3 linked regions of the Homo sapiens genome follow. The protein of the gene in region 1 purifies or fractionates together with the protein of each later gene. This does not show direct contact. Each region holds a gene or a part of one and is shown on either strand. Other genes may lie near its edges.

Region 1 (7,150 bases):
TGGCCGTATCAGCTTCGCCCTGCGGTACCTCTATGGCTCGGACCAGCTGGTGGTGAGGATCCTGCAGGCCCTGGACCTCCCTGCCAAGGACTCCAACGGCTTCTCAGACCCCTACGTCAAGATCTACCTGCTGCCTGACCGCAAGAAAAAGTTTCAGACCAAGGTCCGGAGCAGCGGGCTGGACACCGGGTTCCCACAGAGAGGGAGCTAGGGCTCTGGACTCCCGGGTCTGAGGGAGGAGGGGCTGGGGGCCTGGACTCCCGGGTCTGAGGGAGGAGGGGCTGGGGGCCTGGACTCCCGGGTCTGAGGGAGGAGGGGCTGGGGGCCTGGACTCCTGGGTCTGAGGGAGGAGGGGCTGGGGGCTGGACTCCTGGATCCTGTGGAGGAGGGGCTTATGGGCACGGTGTCTGTCTCCTGTCGCCCACCACCACCAGGTGCACAGGAAGACCCTGAACCCCGTCTTCAATGAGACGTTTCAATTCTCGGTGCCCCTGGCCGAGCTGGCCCAACGCAAACTGCACTTCAGCGTCTATGACTTTGACCGCTTCTCGCGGCACGACCTCATCGGCCAGGTGGTGCTGGACAACCTCCTGGAGCTGGCCGAGCAGCCCCCTGACCGCCCGCTCTGGAGGGACATCGTGGAGGGCGGCTCGGTCAGTGGCCCTCTCCCCTGACCTTCCCCTTCCCAGGGCCCTGAGACCCCCCGGGTTGCAAGCCCCCTGCCCTCAGAGTTCATAACTTCCTCACTTCTTGTCCCCACATTTTTCTGTTAAAATGTATCACACTGGGGAAGACTGCAAACTTACAGGCAAGAATAGAGAATGAGCCGGGCGCGGTAGCTCATGCCTATAATCCCAGCACTTTGGGAGGCCAGGTGGGCAGATCACTTGAGGTTGGGAGTTCGAGACCAGCCTGGCCAACATGGAGAAACCCCATCTCTACTAAAAATACAAAAATTAGCCGGGCATGGTGGCACATGCCTGTAATCCCAGCTACTTAGGAGGATGAGGCAGGAGAATCGCTTGCACCAGGAAGTGGAGGTTGTGGTGAGCAGAGATCATGCCATTGCACTCCAGCGTAGGCAACAAGAGCGAAACTCCGTCTCAAAAAAAAAAAAAAAAGAACAGATAATGATACAGTGGACACCATTCCTCTCCTCAACATCGCCAAATGTTAGCATCAGGTCTGGATCCGATTTTCCAACCTCTCACCCGCTTTGCCATAGGATGCCTTCCTGCCTCAACCCCATGACTTCTCCCCTCTCACCCCAGACTTCTTACCTTCCTAACTTCCTGACTTTCCAATGACTGGACTTCTGGAAGCCCCAGTCCCTCTCTAATCTCTGAACTTCTGAAAGCCCCAATCCCTCTCTAATCTCTGAACTTCTGAATTTTCCCAACCCCTGACATTGGAACTCTTTCATATTCTGACCCTCTGTTTTTTCATGGTCCCTGCCCGAATGCTGATAGCTTGATCCCCCAGGCCTCAGCCATCCTGGGATCCCCAATATGCAGACACTCCTCAGTTCTCCCAGCATCCAGATTATAGGGCCCAATGGCTTCTTCCTTATTCCTTGCGACCCCTGCCCTCTGGTATCTCATTCTCCCTGTACCTCCAATCCCTCCCCAGCCCCATTCTTAGGTACTTCTTGTGTGTGTGTCCTGAGCTCTTCTGCCCCACCAAATCTCAGATCCTCAACTCTACAGCGCCCCCGCTCCAACCTAATTTGTGGATTATCCAACATTCCAGTTCTCTGCCAATCTGGGGTAGCTGTGTGTGTGTTGTGGGGAGGGCGGCCTTCATATCAGGAGAGGACTAGACCTCCTCAAGGTTCTTTCCTTTTCTGAGCCTCAGTTTCCCCATCTGTTCAATGACAGATGTCCAGTTGAGCTGGGTGCCAGGTAGGCTTTTTGGGTAGCTCTTTGGGTAGGCTTCTTCATGGGGCCCTCCCCAGCCTGCCTGCTTGGCCCCCAAGCCCAGCCTTTGAGATTGAAGTGCCCAGTTCCAAGGTCCCAGGGCCCCTGTGTATTCCACCAGCTCCTACTCCCAGTCATCACCCATGGCAGCCCCATGCCAGGGCCTTCTCTCTGTATCCATGCTGGCCTAATTCTTGTGCTCACCCTTCTCATTTTCTCTCTCCATCATCATCACTTGAGGTTTTCCTCACTCATTCCATTGATTCATACATTCTCTCTCTCTCATTTTTTTTTTTTTTTTTTTGAGACAGAGTCTCTCTCTGTCACCCAGGCTGGAGTACAGTGGCGCAATCTCAGCTCACTGCAACCTCCACCTCCCGGGTTCAAGTGATTGTGATTCTCATGCTTCAGTCACCCAAGTAGCTGGGATTACAGGCACCTGCCACCATGCCCGGCTAATTTTTGTATTTTTAGTAGAGACAGGGTTTCGCCATGCTGGCCAGGCTGGTCTCGAACTCCTGAGCTCAGGTTAACCGCCCACCTCAGCCTCCCAAAGTGCTGGGATTACAGGCATCAGCCACTGCACCCAGCCTTCATTCATTTCTTCAACCACTGTTTTTTTCAGGAGCAGGGCCTGGGGACCCCAGGCAGCCCTCGGCAGCTCCAGGTCTAGATGGTCGGGCCTTGTGTCAGGGGCCAGGGTTATGGGGAGGCACAGGAGGAGCCTCTGCAGGGCTGTGGGGGATCTGGGAGCTTGTGGAACGAGGGGAGGCTCAAAGGCCAAGGAGAGATAGAGGGAAGAGTGTTCTGGCAGAGGGACAGCCTGGGCAGATGCCCTGAGGGGAATGAGTAGGGAGTCCTGGGCACAGTTGGGAGGCCGCAGGGCTAGGCCAGGTTGGTCAAAGCTCCCAGCTAGCTCCAGCGTGGCTCCAGCCTGTGTGTCAGGGTTGGGGGCAGTCCTGGAAACTTCGGTGGAGGTTGATGAATCTCCTGCCCTCTCTCAGGCTGGTTTATGTGTGTGTGTCTGCTTGGTCTTTGTCCCACTCTGTCTGAGTCAGCCTCTCTCTCTCTCTCTCTCTTTCTCTTGGTGCAGGGAGTAGGGTATCTGAGTCTAGGTTTCTCTCTCGCTCTCTGGTCTCTGCCCCTCCACTCTAATTCTAGGTAACTATCACTCTCTCTGGGTCTTTATGCACCCCCAACCCACTGTCTCTGTCCCTCTCTCTCTCTGGGCCTCTGTCTCTCTCTGAGTCTCTCTCTATATATATCTCTCTCTCTTTCTCTCTCTGGGTCTCTGTACCCCCTGTCTCTGGGCTTCTGTCTCTCTCTGGGTCTCTATCTCTCTGTCTCTGGGTCTCTGTCCCCCTCTCTGTCTGGGTCTCTGCCCCTTTCTCTCTCTGGGTCTGTCCTCCTCTCTCTGGGTCTCTGTCCCCCTCTCTTTCTGGGCCTCTGTCCTCCTCTCTCTCTGGGCTTCTGTCCTCCTCTCTCTCTGGGTCTCTGTCCTCCTCTCTGGGTCTCTGTCCCCCCCCCTCTCTCTCTGGGCCTCTGTCCCCCTCTCTCTCTGGGTCTCTGTCTCCCTCTCTTTCTGGGTCTCTGTCTCCCTCTCTCTGGGTCTCTCTCTGTGTCTGTCTCTGGGCCTCTGTCCCTCTGACTTGAGAACTTTGCCTGTGGGTCTGTCTTTCCAGCTGTATCCCTCCGTGTTTTGGCTTCTGTCTCAGTCTATTTCTCTTTGTGTTTTCTCTCTCTCTCACCTTCTCTGTCTCTCCCCTCCTCTCTCTCTCCCCTCACTCATGCTTCTTCCAATCTTTCCTGCAGAACAAATAAGCTTTGATGGTCATGGGCAGCTGTGGCCAGGGAATTACTGGGCCTTGTCCCAAGAGTCAGATTGCTAAGTGGATGGGAAGCCTGAGCCCTGGATGTCAGGGTGTAAAGCAGGAGGCTCCGACCGGAGAGAAAATCAGGGAGAGTTGAAGAGGGGCTGAGGCAAGATATCGCTGACCTTTTCCCCAACTGCAGGAAAAAGCAGATCTTGGGGAGCTCAACTTCTCACTCTGCTACCTCCCCACGGCCGGGCGCCTCACCGTGACCATCATCAAAGCCTCTAACCTCAAAGCGATGGACCTCACTGGCTTCTCAGGTGAGGGTCCTGGGTCTGAGGGAGGAGGGCTGGGGGCCTGGACTCCTGGGTCTGAGGGAGGAGGGGCCAGGGGCCTGGACTCCTGGGTCTGAGGGAGGAGGAGCTGGGGATCTGGACTCCTGGGTCTGAGGGAGGAGGGGCCAGGGGCCTGGACTCCTGGGTCGGAGAGAGGAGGACCTGGGGTCTGGACTCTTGGGCCTGAGGAAGGAGGGACTGGGGGCCTGGGGCCCCGGACCTCTGGGTCTGAGGGAGGAGGGGCTCGGGGCCTGGGGTCCTGGACCCCTAGGTCTGAGGGAGTGAGTCTCTGTTCCTTACTTCATTGCTGTTCCCAGACCCCTACGTGAAGGCCTCCCTGATCAGCGAGGGGCGGCGTCTGAAGAAGCGGAAAACCTCCATCAAGAAGAACACGCTGAACCCCACCTATAATGAGGCGCTGGTGTTCGACGTGGCCCCCGAGAGCGTGGAGAACGTGGGGCTCAGCATCGCCGTGGTAGACTACGACTGGTGAGGGGCGCGGCCCGGGCGGGGGTCAGGCAGGAGGGCTGGGGTGGGGACAGGCCCTCCCACCACCCTCCACGGTCCTCACTGACCCCAACCCCCAGCATCGGGCACAACGAGGTGATCGGCGTGTGCCGTGTGGGCCCCGACGCTGCCGACCCGCACGGCCGCGAGCACTGGGCAGAGATGCTGGCCAATCCCCGCAAGCCCGTGGAGCACTGGCATCAGCTAGTGGAGGTGAGTAGGGGTCCCACACCGACCCCTGACAAGCACCCGTGCACCCTCGGCCCCTTCATCCATGCAACGAACGCCCTGCATGTTCGTGAGTCGCAGAGCCAGGCGTCCTAGGTTTCAATCCCTGCTGTGCCAACTTTAGCTGTGCGGCTTAGAGCCAGTTACCCAAGCGCTCTGTGCCTCAATTTACCCACTAGGAAATGGGACTGTTGATAGCATCTTCTGTTAGGATAGAGGTGAGATGTGCTGAGTTAAACGTTCTGTAGGTGGTCGCTGCTGTTGTTACCCATGAGGCTAAGTTGAAAATAGAGGGGGCTGGGCGTGGTGGCTCACGCCTGTAATCCCAGCACTTTGGGAGGCCGAGGAGGGTGGATCACCTGAGGTCAGGAGTTTGAGACCAGCCTGACCAACATGGAGAAACCCTGTCTCTACTAAAAATACAAAATTAGCTGGGCGTGGTGGCGCACGCCTGTAATCCCAGCTACTTGGGAGGCTGAGGCAGGAGAATCGCTTGAACCTGGGAGGCAGAGGTTGCGGTGAGCTGAGGTGGCGCCATTGCACTCCAGCCTGGGCGACAGAGCAAGACTCTGTCTCAAAAAAAAAAAAAAAAGTCATTTAAGATTATCGCTTGATCAGGAGAAATAATCAAACATGGCCATTCTCTCAATAGAAAACAAGAGGAGCAAAGAAGTAGCTTTAGAAAGTGTTATTGGCAGATTTGCCTCCATTAAAAGCCAAGAAAGTCAAATTATTCAAATTCTGTCTAGGGTATATATGAAAGATTTAAATGTAAAATAATGTTGTGAATTTCAACACACTTACTTCATTTTTCAGTATTTTTCAACTAGTTTAGCATTCCAGGAAAAATAAATTTAGAAAAAATATATAAAAACTTGGGCAGGGCACAGTGGCTCATGCCTGAAATCCCAGCACAGGCCTTGGGAGGCCAAGGTGGGTGGATCACTTGAGCCTGGGAGTTTAAGACTAGCCTGAGCAACATGGGGAGAGCCTGTCTCTACAAAAATAATTTAGGAATTAGCTAGGCATGGTAGTGTGTGCTTATAGTCCCTGCTACTCAGGAGGCTGAGGCAGGAGGATCTCTTGAGCCCAGGAGTTTGTTACTGCAGTGAGCTATGATCTCACCACCACACTCCAGCCTGGGCAATGGAGCAGGAACCCCTCTCCTTAAAAAAAAAAAAAAAGCAAGTATATGAGGGCACATACATTTCCTTTGAAATAGCAGTCTGATGTGGCATGAGACTGGCCTTTTTTAAAAATTTGATATTTTCTTCATCATTGATTTTTTTGCATTAATTTTGATTTTTTTTAAAATCTTGCATTATTATTATTATTGTTATTATTGAGACAGAGTCTCACTCTGTCACCCAGGCTGGAGTGCAGTGTTGCAGTCTTGGCTCACTGCAACCTCCCCCTCCCTGAGTACAAGTGATTCTCCTGCTTCAGCCTCCCAAGTAGCTGGGACTACAGGCGTGTGCCACCTCACCCTGCTAATTTTTTTTTTTTTTTTTTTTTTTTTTTTTTTTTTTTTTTGTAGAGACAGGGTTTTGCCATGTTGTCCAGGCTGGTCTCAACTTCCCACCTCAAGTGATCCACCCACCTTGGGCTCCCAAAGTGCTGGGATTATAGGCGTGAGCCACCGCGCCTGGCCAATATTGCATGAAATATTCTTTATCTTGATTGCTGCATTTGGGGCACACATTTACATTTAGTACTGGGTGAAACTTTCACCACATCACCAGATTTAGTCTGGCCCTGCTGTGGGCTTTTTTCCAGTGATCATGAGGGACCCGACACCTGGGCACAGAACTCAGATTTGAGATTGGAAAAGACGGGGACTCTACTAAGGTGGATAGGATGGAGGCTACTCCCTCCTCCTGTCATTCACTCATTCATCCGTTCATTAATTCATCCCACCAACCTTCCCAGGAGTTTCTGGTGAGCCACTGCCCATGTTGGGCAACGCTGGTGGCACAGAGTCTAGGCCGAGTCCTGACACTGCCCATGAATTTCAGCCCCTCATGCTCCCTGTGGCCCCAGAAGATCCTTCTACACCCAGAGCTTCCCCTCCCCTTCCTTGCTCACAGCCCTCCCGTGGCTCCCCAGTGGCCCCAGGACAGAGTCTCAGCCCCTCTGATACCATGCAGGACTTGCCCCACTCATCCCTACAGCCTCATCTCTCCTCGCATTTGCAGAGACTCCTCTTTTTTGTGCCTCCATTTCCCCATCTGTAGAATGGAATTGTAATACCATCTGTCCGTCACTTCAGGGCCAAGTGAGAAAGCGCATCCTAAATAATGAAACAGGATTGACGTCTTCTCCTGTTGATGATTAGCATCTGTTTCAACTC
Region 2 (7,000 bases), on another chromosome or scaffold:
GTCTTCCTTTAATTAATTAGTCTCCTTTCCTCACCTTGGTGTGGCCAAACTTGTACTGGTTGTGATCAATGTCCAGGGAGCTGAGCAGCTTCTCTGCCCCCTTCCTGCTATCAATGAACTGTCCCTCAGGGATGGCCGCTGGGTTCAGGATGCGATACCTGAGGAGGGAAGTGTCCAGAGTCACCCATGCTCTGCAGTGATCTGCTCTGCCCATAGAATTCCAGGGTCACCTGCAGATCCCATTCCCATCAGGGCAGCCTGGCTCCCCCTGTTCTATGAGCTCTGGTGCACCCTCATACCCACCTCTGCCGGAAGTCCCCGTAGAGGATGCGGTTGGGGAAGCCTTTCCTGCAGATGCGGATGCCCTCCAGCACACCATTGCAGCGCAGCTGGTGCATGACCAGGGGGTTGTCCATCACCCCTGTGGCAAGAAGGAAGTAGGAGGAGTCTGTGAGAACACTGGACTGAAGTTCTGGGTTCTGATCCTGGCTTTGTCACTGATTAGCTTGTAATCTTAGCAAGTCAGTTAGTAATAATCATTTGTTTCATTTTCTTCTAGCCACATTTTTAACTAAAAGGCTTTCACATTCCTTTTTTATATGATTCACACCTATTATCATAGGTGGTAGCCAGAACAGATATATCCAATGTTCTAGATGAGTAAATTAAGCCCAGAGGGGTTATGGGACTGGCCCAAGTTCACTAAGCTGATCAAGAACAGAGCCAGGTCTTGAACCCAGGTCCCTGAGCCTCTGTCTCCTAATTAGCCAAAAATGGATTAACAATTTGAATATGTCTCATTGGGGGATTAAGTGGTTCTGCAGGTAAATTTAAAGTTGAACTAAGATTCTGTCTTGGACAACCAGCTATCCAAGGGGTTGTAGGGCCACTGATGAGGTAATGTCCATCAGAGTGCCTTACACATCACCCTCATTACACACTGCAAGTGCAAGGTAGCGCTGAGAGGGAGGTACCCTGGGAGGCCTCATGCGGGATGGGAGGAGAAGAATGTGGTTTGGAAACCACTGTGGTGGTAGGTAGGGAGATGTCCTAGGAGGTCCTGTTCCCAGGGCGGTGTATGCCCAGCAGTGGGTTGGCCTGAGTTTGTGGCCTCACCTGGAGACTTTGTCTCATTAGGGATGATACAACGTACAAAGTGGGGATGGGTGGAGCGCAAGTTGGTCATCAGCTTGTTCAGATTTTCCTGTGGCCAAAAATGCAATAGAGAAAAGTAAAGAAAATGCCAGAAAGAGATGCAGGAAGAAGAGAGGAGAAGAAGGAAGGAAAAGAGAGATGGAGAGAATTCGAGAAGTCACAGAGATGAAGGGGCCCTGGGGGCAGACAGGGATAAGGAGAGAGGGTGGGAGACAGAAGGGAAAGAGGAGAGAAGGGAGATGGGAAGTAAATAAGTGAAGAGGCCAGGAGATGACGGGAAGAGAAGACAGAGTGAAAATGGTCCCGAATGCACCAAGGAGACAGGGAACGGGAGGAGTAGGGGATGAACAAGGCAGGGAAGGGTGGGGCTGGGTGGGGTTGGGCAGATGGGGAGCCAAGTTGGCTGGGGCTGTGTCCCACTCACCCTGTGCAGAGCTGACACAGTCTGAAAGGACGAGCCTTTCTTGGCCTTGCCTTTGCCCTTCTCAATAGCTGCAGGAAGGAGAGTCAACAAAAGAAGCATCAGTGTGGGGAGGTAGGGTGTGAGTAAAGAATCACAGCCCCTCTTTACATCCTTGCTGGCATTTGGCCCCTGGGTGAGGGCCTTCAATGTGGCTGCCTCAGTTTCTTCACCCAGTTCCATCCCACTGAGTCTGTAAACCTTGGGGTACAACCTGACATTGAAGTGGTGGGGTGTAGCAATTGACCTGGCTCAGAACCTTGGCAGAATCCCTGCTCCTCTGTACCGGGAGCCTCAGTCCCTACTTACGCGCATCAGCCCCAGCATAGTTGGCAAACAGGGTGCTGAGCAGCTTGAGGGAAGACTTCTGATACAAGCCCACGACAGTCTCATTGAGAGGATCCTTGTTCTTCTGCAGCCAGCCAATGATGTTGTAGTCCACGATGCCGGCATAGTGGATCAGGGAGAAGTGGGCTTCAGGCTTCCCCTTGATATTGCGTGGCTTCTGGAAGTTGGCGGATTTGCCCAGGTGGTTGTCAAACAGCTTGGCCTTGAAGGTCATGTCGGTGGCCTTGGGGAACATGCACTCCTCTTCCAGGATGGACATGATGCCCATGGGCTGAGGAAGCAGGAGAGAGCATCACTGAGTGTCCTTCACACAGGTGGACATGGATTCTGCTCTATGGTCAATATACTTGCTCGTGGAGGTGCCATGTTGGGTGTTAAGGTAGTAGGCTCAGCTCTGAGTACAGTTATCTACTGACTGGAACCGGTTCAAGGTGGAGGATTTTGTCTGATGACAGAAGGACCTTTGTGAAAGTCTGGGAATATGGATTCTATCGATGCTGTACACACCACTCCACGACCCAGATGCCTGAGATGCTAGGGTTGAAAATAGGTGCACTCTTATGATCCCCTACACCACCCTCACACTTCCTGATCCTTGGATGCATAAACCAGGCCCAATAAACATGCAGGTGTGGGAGGTCATCATGCAGGTGCCCATCCTCCATGTGTCCACTTTCAAGCCCCTGGGAAATCAGCTGTCCCTGGTGCCACCCTGTCCTGGGTGCTCAGCACAACATAGGCTCTGGAACCAAGGGCTCGGATCCTTCAGCCCCTTCTATTTTTATATTCCCCAGAAGGGAGAGGGGCTGCTATTTTGTCTATGGTGTTCTTGTTGGGTGTGCAGGGAGAATTCAGGTGGTAAGGCCAAAGAGGCACCTTCTCGATGAGGTCAATGCAGGCCTGCAGGTCCATGCCAAAGTCAATGAATGTCCACTCGATGCCCTCCTTCTTGTACTCCTCCTGCTCCAGCACAAACATGTGGTGGTTGAAGAACTGCTGCAGCTTCTCGTTGGTGAAGTTGATGCAGAGCTGCTCAAAGCTGTTGAACTGCAGGGGGCATGAGGGGTGGGAGCAGTCAGAAAGTGGGTGTGAGTGGCCATTGGGGCTGTGCCCGTCCACTGTGCCTGAGCCCAGCAGGGCGTGGCTGGTCCCCTCCATGTCAAGGCAGTGAAGGAGGGCTTCCCCTGAAGACAGAGAAAATGACTGCCTCTGTCACCACACAGTCCCCACTGCCTTCCCATGTCTGGTCCACAGCTGGCTCTAAGCAAATAGCTGTTGAATGTGGGAGCGAGTGAGTGATTGTTCTCCCACTCCCAGGGGTCCCAACTCACATCGAAGATCTCGAAGCCAGCGATGTCCAGGACTCCTATGAAGTACTGGCGTGGCTGCTTGGTCTCCAGGGTGGCATTGATGCGCGTCACCATCCAGTTGAACATCCTCTCATACACTGCCTTGGCCAGTGCCCCAGTGGCATATATCACCTGCAAGGTGGAGGAGAGACCCATATTGAGCAGGGTTGTTGGGAAGAGTGAACTTGAAAACTCTCATCCCACCATGCCAGTCTCCCTACCCTGCCCACCCATTATCATCTGAAGATGGACCCACCTGCTGGACATTCTGCCCCTTGGTGACGTACTCATTGCCCACTTTCACCCGAGGGTGGCACAGCCCCTTGAGCAGGTCGGCTGAGTTCAGCCCCATGAGGTAGGCAGACTTGTCAGCCTCTGGAAGGAAAAGGCAAGTAGCAAAGTTGGTAAAGAGATGACTGCTGGCCAGGTGTGGTGGTTCATGCCTGTAATCCCAGCACTTTGGGAGGCCAAGGCAGGCGGATCACTTGAGGTCAGGAGTTTGAGACCAACCTGGCCAACATGATGAAACCCCATCTCTACTAAAAATACAAAAATTAGCCAGGCATGGTGGTGCATGCCTGTAATTCCAGCTACTCGGGAGGCTGAGGCAGGAGAATCACTTGAACCCAGGATGTGGAGGTGGCAGTGAGCCAAGATCGTGCCACTGCGCTCCAGCCTGGGCAACAGAGCAAGACTCCATCTCAAAAAAAAAAAAAAAAGAAAAAAGAGAAGAGAGATGACTGCTGAGCAGACATGGCCCTCCATGACTTGACAGCTGCCCCCAAGAATCCCTGCCTCCCACCTTCAGTGCCGTCTGGCTCCGCCTGCTCCTCCCGCTGCTTCAGCTTGAACTTCATGTTTCCAAAGTGCATGATGGCGCCTGTCAGCTTATACATGGAGTTTTTCTCCTCTGAAGTGAAGCCCAGCACATCAAAAGCGTTCTGTAGGGAGGCCCCATATTGGCGGACCCCAGAAAAAGAAGTATGATGGGTAAGTGAGATCCCTTGTAAGTTGGAGAGAAAACTTGTCTCCTTAATCCCTGTGGGTTCTGAGACTCCCATACCCAGTGGGGAGCTCCAAAACAAAGGATGTAAGATGCAGGGAACTCCAAAACAAAGGATGTAAGATGCAAGAGCAGAGCAGACGTCAGTTGGCCGCAGCCCCAGTGTCAGTGGCCACAGCTTTTCTGAGTTACCCACTTATGCTTCCTGGCCCTACACTTGCTTCCTGCCTGGCCTTCCATACCTGTCTGCATCTGTTCACCTAACAGCCCCTCCAGCCCCATGCCGTCTGCATGGCCTTCCCTCCTCGTCCTGCTCCCTCGGTGATGCTTGTTTCTTGGCTTGTGTGTCTCTCTGTCTCATGGCTTTCAGCTCTTCCTGGTTTGATAGAACACCAGATACTGGCCAGTCCTGTCTCACCTCATCCATTCCCCAGTACACCCTGATCACAGGGCACATTCTGGCTCTCAGGAGGTCCATACCACTTTAAACAACCAATGGCCAGCGTCTTAGCTCTGCTTTTGGACCCCTGTTTGCCCCTCACTGCCAATCCTCCCACCCCCTGGCTGGGTCCTCACACACTCACATCAGTGGCCATGAGCTCCTCAGCGTCATCAATGGAGGCCACGGTGGTCTCTCCTTGGGAGATGAATGCATAATCGTAGGGGTTGTTGGTGATCAGCAGCATGTCTAGGGGAAAAAACATGGTTAGGGTGGGACACAAGCCCCCGGCTCTCATGGAGGCTGCTCGCCACAGCACATGGCCTGAGGAAGAGCACAGGACAGGGCTTGGCTTGGCCCCACATCCCACTGAATTGAATCCAGCAGTGCCATGAAACCCAGGGCATGCCAGCTGAGTCCAGCCACAAGCAGAGGGGACCAGGTTGCCATGGAGATAGTTGGTCTCAGTCGGTGGCTCTGACTCACCCAGCAGCTCAGGCTTTTTGTTAGACAGGATTTGGTAGAAAATGTGATAATCTCTCTCTGCTTTCAGCTGGAAAATAACTCTGGATTTTTCCAGAAGATCTGTGAACAGGTGGGGAGAAGAAGGAGAGAAAGAAAAGTTAGGGTTTGGGCACAAGGAAAATTAATGATAAATGTAGCAAGCAAAAGGCAGAGGGAAGGGAAGAGCCAGAGAGACTAGTTGGACAGACACAAAGAGATCACACAGAGAGATGGAAACAGAGACCCAGAAGGAGAGAAATAGTCTCAGAGAGAAATCCCAGAGAAAGACACCTAGCCATGCAGAGACAGAAATGGAGAAAGATGCAGAGGAAGTCTCAGAGAGAGACAGATATGTAGACCTGAAGACAGAGACACCTACAGACAGAGACTTAAAGAGGAGAAAAACAGAGGGAGGGAGGGGAGAGAGAGAGAGGTCAAGACCAGATGGTCTAGAGCAAGGGTGAGCTTAGGCTGAGCCTAGCAGATTCATGGCACTCACAGGTCTCTATGTCTGCAGATGCCAACTTTCCTGTTGCCCCAAAATGAATTCGAATGAATTTCCCCTGGAGAGATGGAAGAGAGTGGTGATGAGTTGGGGGAAGGCTCATATCTGAGACCATTCCTCCACCAGTCCAAGTCCCAAGGCCAAGGTCAGGGACCACTCACGAAGCGGGAGGAGTTGTCGTTCCGGACGGTCTTGGCATTGCCAAAGGCCTCCAGAGCAGGGTTGGCCTGGATGATCTGGTCCTCCAGGGTGCCCTGCAGAGGCCAAGAAGGAGGCAGGTGAGAGCTCTTCTCCCTCCCTTTCTGCGGTACAGGACCTTGGAGGGCAGCAGGCCTACCTTGCCCGGGCTCTGGTCCTTCTTGCTGCGGTCCCCAATGGCTGCAATAACAGCAAAGTACTGGATGACCCTCTTGGTGTTGACTGTCTTCCCTGCTCCGGATTCTCCGCTGTGAAGACAGGGGCTTATTGGGCAGTGAACAATACTACTGGAGACCAGCAAGCCTCAAATCAGGAGAGAATGCCTGGGCCTACCCGAGAGTAGGAGCCCTGGGCAAGAAGCTGCCAGGTTATCTACACCCAAAATCCACAACTGTCTTCTGATGCACAGAGGTCAGGGCTGGCACCAGGAAGGATGCCACCAGAAGGCACTGGTTTGGGCAGGCTGAGCCTGTGCTTGGCTGGGCAAAGTAAACAGGGGAGATGGGCCTGGGCTGTTTTGGGAAAAGTTGGTAGGGCTGGAAGAATGGGAAATGTTTCTGAAGGGAAAGAAAATGCAGAGGTGAAGACATGGCGATAATGAGCTTCTGGATAAACGCGTGATGAGTTGGAGAGTGGGTGAAGGAGGTGGGAGAGGAAAAACATGAAGGGGATGGAAAGCAGAAAGGAAGAGGGAGAGCAAAGAGAGGGGTCAGGGTAATGGTCAGAGAAGAAGGAGATGGGCACGAGGTTGGGGGGAAAGAGGCTGAGTCTATGCCTCGGGGCCTGGGACACCTGATGGGGCTGGAGGCTGGGATCAGGGAGATTCTGAAAGGGAATACAGTAGCAGCTACACTCACGTGATCAGGATGGACTGGTTTTCTCTGTCTGTGGGGAGAGGGTGGGGAGGAAAGGTCAGGAGCTGCACAGGATGCTCTCGTGGGGCTTCTCCCTTCCTTCTCCCTCTCCCTCCCGGCCTATCCCAGTTCCCTTCAGGAAGACCCTTCCAGGGCCTCTCACCTGTCAGCATGTACTGATAGGC
Region 3 (2,770 bases), on another chromosome or scaffold:
ATAACTGTCTGGTCCTCTTTTAGGAATCAGCTCATAGTCTCCTTTGAGAAGCCTTTCTGGATTTCCAAAGTTAGCAGCTCACTCTATGTTATTGCCACATTTGTTTTTCACACTCATGTCAGAGTATGTATGTTGCACATACATACAGCGTATATCTTTTTGAACTGCCGTCTTCCACACTGGATTGAACTTCTCAAAGACAGGGATAACTGTCACATCTTTCGTGTCCATTTCTGTACCAGACATATAGTTGATACTCAGTAAAATTGGTTGAATGGAATTGAGAGTGCGTTTGTCACCTTCATGTCTTCTCAGAGCACCTTATTTCATTTACCTTCCATTAAAGTTGGGTTCACTGCCTACATTCATTTTTGTTATTATCTCTGATTGCACATATTAGGAACTCCACAAATGTTGAATAAAGGAATTAGTTCTAATAGCACTAAAGAGCTTATAATTAAGAGACAAATGTATTTTTAGATGCAAAATTATCTAAAGATTTTATTTCCTTGATATACAGGACAGTGACAAAGAACTTCACATTTCGTGCATTTCTTTGGTCACATTTTCTTTCATTAGAATGAATTACTCTTCACTTATGACTTTTGTGTGAACCTCCCGACTCTTCACTCTCAGCTTGTTGACTTGGGACTCAGCAATGTCAGCCCGTTCCTTGGCCTCCTCCAGCTCGTGCTGGAGCTTGCGGAACTTGGCAAGGTTGACATTGGATTGTTCCTCCTGAGAACAGAGATGCATTTGAGATAACAAGAAAATTGGACATTTCCTGATTGTTATTGCTTTTGTTACTTCAGGATTTGCCTCATGAATGAGAAAGAAAAAGGCTCCGTTGTCCAGGCATGGTGGCTCACACCTGTAATCCCAGCACTCTGGGAGACTGAGGCGGGTGGATCACCTGAGGTCAGGAATTCGAGACCAGCCTGGCCAACATGGTGAAACCCCCATCTTTACTAAAATTAGCCCAGCGTAGTGGTGGATGCCTGTAATTCCAGCTACTCAGGAGGCTGAGGCAGGAGAATCTCTTGGACCCAGGAGGCAGAGATTGCAGTGAGCTGAGATTGTGCCATTGCACTCCAGCCTGGGCAACAAGAGCAAAACTCTGCCTCGAAAAAAAAAAAAAGAAGAGAAAAAGGCTTTATTATTTAGTAACATAGTTATTTGAGAGCAAGGCATCCCACAAACTCGCCTATGTAAATGAATGTGCTTATGACCCTCCTCAAGTCTCTCTCTCACTTGACTCTCTTTCTGGCAAACTGAAGAGGCTGCAGTGATAACTGGAAGAACAAAGTAGCAGGGATCTGAATTCAATCTTGTTTCTAAAAAAGAAACTTTAAAAAATAGGTGCAGTAGTGGCATTTGGTGCCAAGAACCCTAAGGAAGGTTTCAGAATTAACAGAATGAAAAAGATAACTGCAGCCAAATTGAAAAAAAAAGTCCCAAGATGGATTTATCATGAAGTTAAATGAAGCTTAGAATTCATACTCTCATTTGCACAGGTCCATATGAGTGCTGGGGGTTGTAGAATGTTCTAGATAGGGAGGGAAGTGGATTGCAACTAAGAAACATTTGTATGTTAACATGTCTGGAAAATTGCTTAAAGAGGTCTCAGAAGAAATAAACTCAAATCTATAAGGCTCCAGTAATTTATGGTTCATTTTTCTCATTCTAAATATTCATGTTCATACCTAATTATGTATTCCCAATTTAAAGAAAACCCCCTAAATTCTATAAACTTTAGGCCCCAAAAAACCTGGATGTGCATCTGAACCTTTCATTTCCACTGTGGAGATACTCACAGCCTCTTCAGCTTGTCTCTTGTAAGCTTTGACTTTGGTTTGCAATTTGTCCACCAAGTCCTGCAGCCTGAGAATATTCTTGCGGTCCTCCTCAGTCTGAAAGAGGTGCAAGTAGATGGTGCCATTATTTTAAAACAACTCATGATTTTCTTGAAAACTATAGGCCTGGAAGATATGAAAACACTGGTCACCTGGTAAGTGAGTTCCTTCACTCTTCTCTCATGTTTGCGAAGACCCTTGACAGCCTCAACATTGTGCTTCTGTTCACTTTCCACCTCACTTTCAAGCTCTCTCACCTGGAAGGGAACAAAGACGTTTACCAGTTTGGCTGTAACTGGCCACAAGGAATTGAGTGAAGTTGTGGAGACCTACCCTGGCCTCCAGTTTCTGGATCTGCTTCTTCCCACCCTTCAGCGCCAGCTGCTCAGCCTCATCCAGACGGAGCTGCAGATCCTTCACGGTCTGCTCCATGTTCTTCTTCATCCGCTCCAGGTGGGCGCTGGTGTCCTGTTCCTTCTTCAGCTCCTCAGCCATCATGGCAGCCTAGTTAGCAAATAAATTTTGAAAATAATGAATTCTGATGATAGCAGGCAGCATGCATGTGTCAGTAAGACAAATGCTCATCTTGCTTACATCAGTGATGGCCTTCTTGGCCTTCTCCTCTGCATTGCGGGCTTCCTGGACGATGTCCTCCATCTCTCCCTGGATTTGGGAAATGTCTGTTTCCAGCTTCTTCTTGGTGTTGATCAGGCTGGTGTTCTGTTTCAAATTAATGAAAGAGAAGAGAAGCACATTTACTTATAACAACTCACATTGTCATTTTACCTAGTGTACACAGGCAAAAATTATTGATCATAAGAAATGTTTAGAATAAAAACCAAATTAGAAGATAATTCTAAGTTTATGCCTTTTCTCCTTTCTATATATAGCTCTTTAATCAAACTTCTAAATTTAAT

Evidence for each region.
Region 2: the proteins of SYT3 (region 1) and MYH7 purify together in Homo sapiens (affinity purification with mass spectrometry; 2 studies listed by BioGRID and IntAct, with this or other methods). This does not show direct contact.
Region 3: the proteins of SYT3 (region 1) and MYH4 purify together in Homo sapiens (affinity purification with mass spectrometry; 2 studies listed by BioGRID and IntAct, with this or other methods). This does not show direct contact.

Annotation. Positions count from the first base shown.
Region 1 is NC_000019.10:50,622,797-50,629,946, reverse strand, and holds part of SYT3 (synaptotagmin-3), read left to right. Parts: coding exon 1-163; intron 164-434; coding exon 435-653; intron 654-3,929; coding exon 3,930-4,050; intron 4,051-4,382; coding exon 4,383-4,554; intron 4,555-4,652; coding exon 4,653-4,785; intron 4,786-7,150. UniProt on the Homo sapiens protein: Ca(2+) sensor involved in Ca(2+)-dependent exocytosis of secretory vesicles through Ca(2+) and phospholipid binding to the C2 domain.
Region 2 is NC_000014.9:23,425,661-23,432,660, forward strand, and holds part of MYH7 (myosin-7), read right to left. Parts: coding exon 6,979-7,000; intron 6,847-6,978; coding exon 6,819-6,846; intron 6,210-6,818; coding exon 6,101-6,209; intron 6,018-6,100; coding exon 5,925-6,017; intron 5,822-5,924; coding exon 5,758-5,821; intron 5,340-5,757; coding exon 5,241-5,339; intron 5,004-5,240; coding exon 4,900-5,003; intron 4,254-4,899; coding exon 4,115-4,253; intron 3,688-4,114; coding exon 3,569-3,687; intron 3,445-3,568; coding exon 3,295-3,444; intron 3,011-3,294; coding exon 2,840-3,010; intron 2,235-2,839; coding exon 1,925-2,234; intron 1,648-1,924; coding exon 1,580-1,647; intron 1,205-1,579; coding exon 1,117-1,204; intron 422-1,116; coding exon 304-421; intron 159-303; coding exon 35-158; intron 1-34. UniProt on the Homo sapiens protein: Myosins are actin-based motor molecules with ATPase activity essential for muscle contraction. Forms regular bipolar thick filaments that, together with actin thin filaments, constitute the fundamental contractile unit of skeletal and cardiac muscle.
Region 3 is NC_000017.11:10,442,790-10,445,559, forward strand, and holds the end of MYH4 (myosin-4), read right to left. Parts: intron 2,574-2,770; coding exon 2,448-2,573; intron 2,358-2,447; coding exon 2,187-2,357; intron 2,111-2,186; coding exon 2,006-2,110; intron 1,911-2,005; coding exon 1,815-1,910; intron 739-1,814; coding exon 586-738; 3' UTR 501-585; downstream 1-500. UniProt on the Homo sapiens protein: Muscle contraction.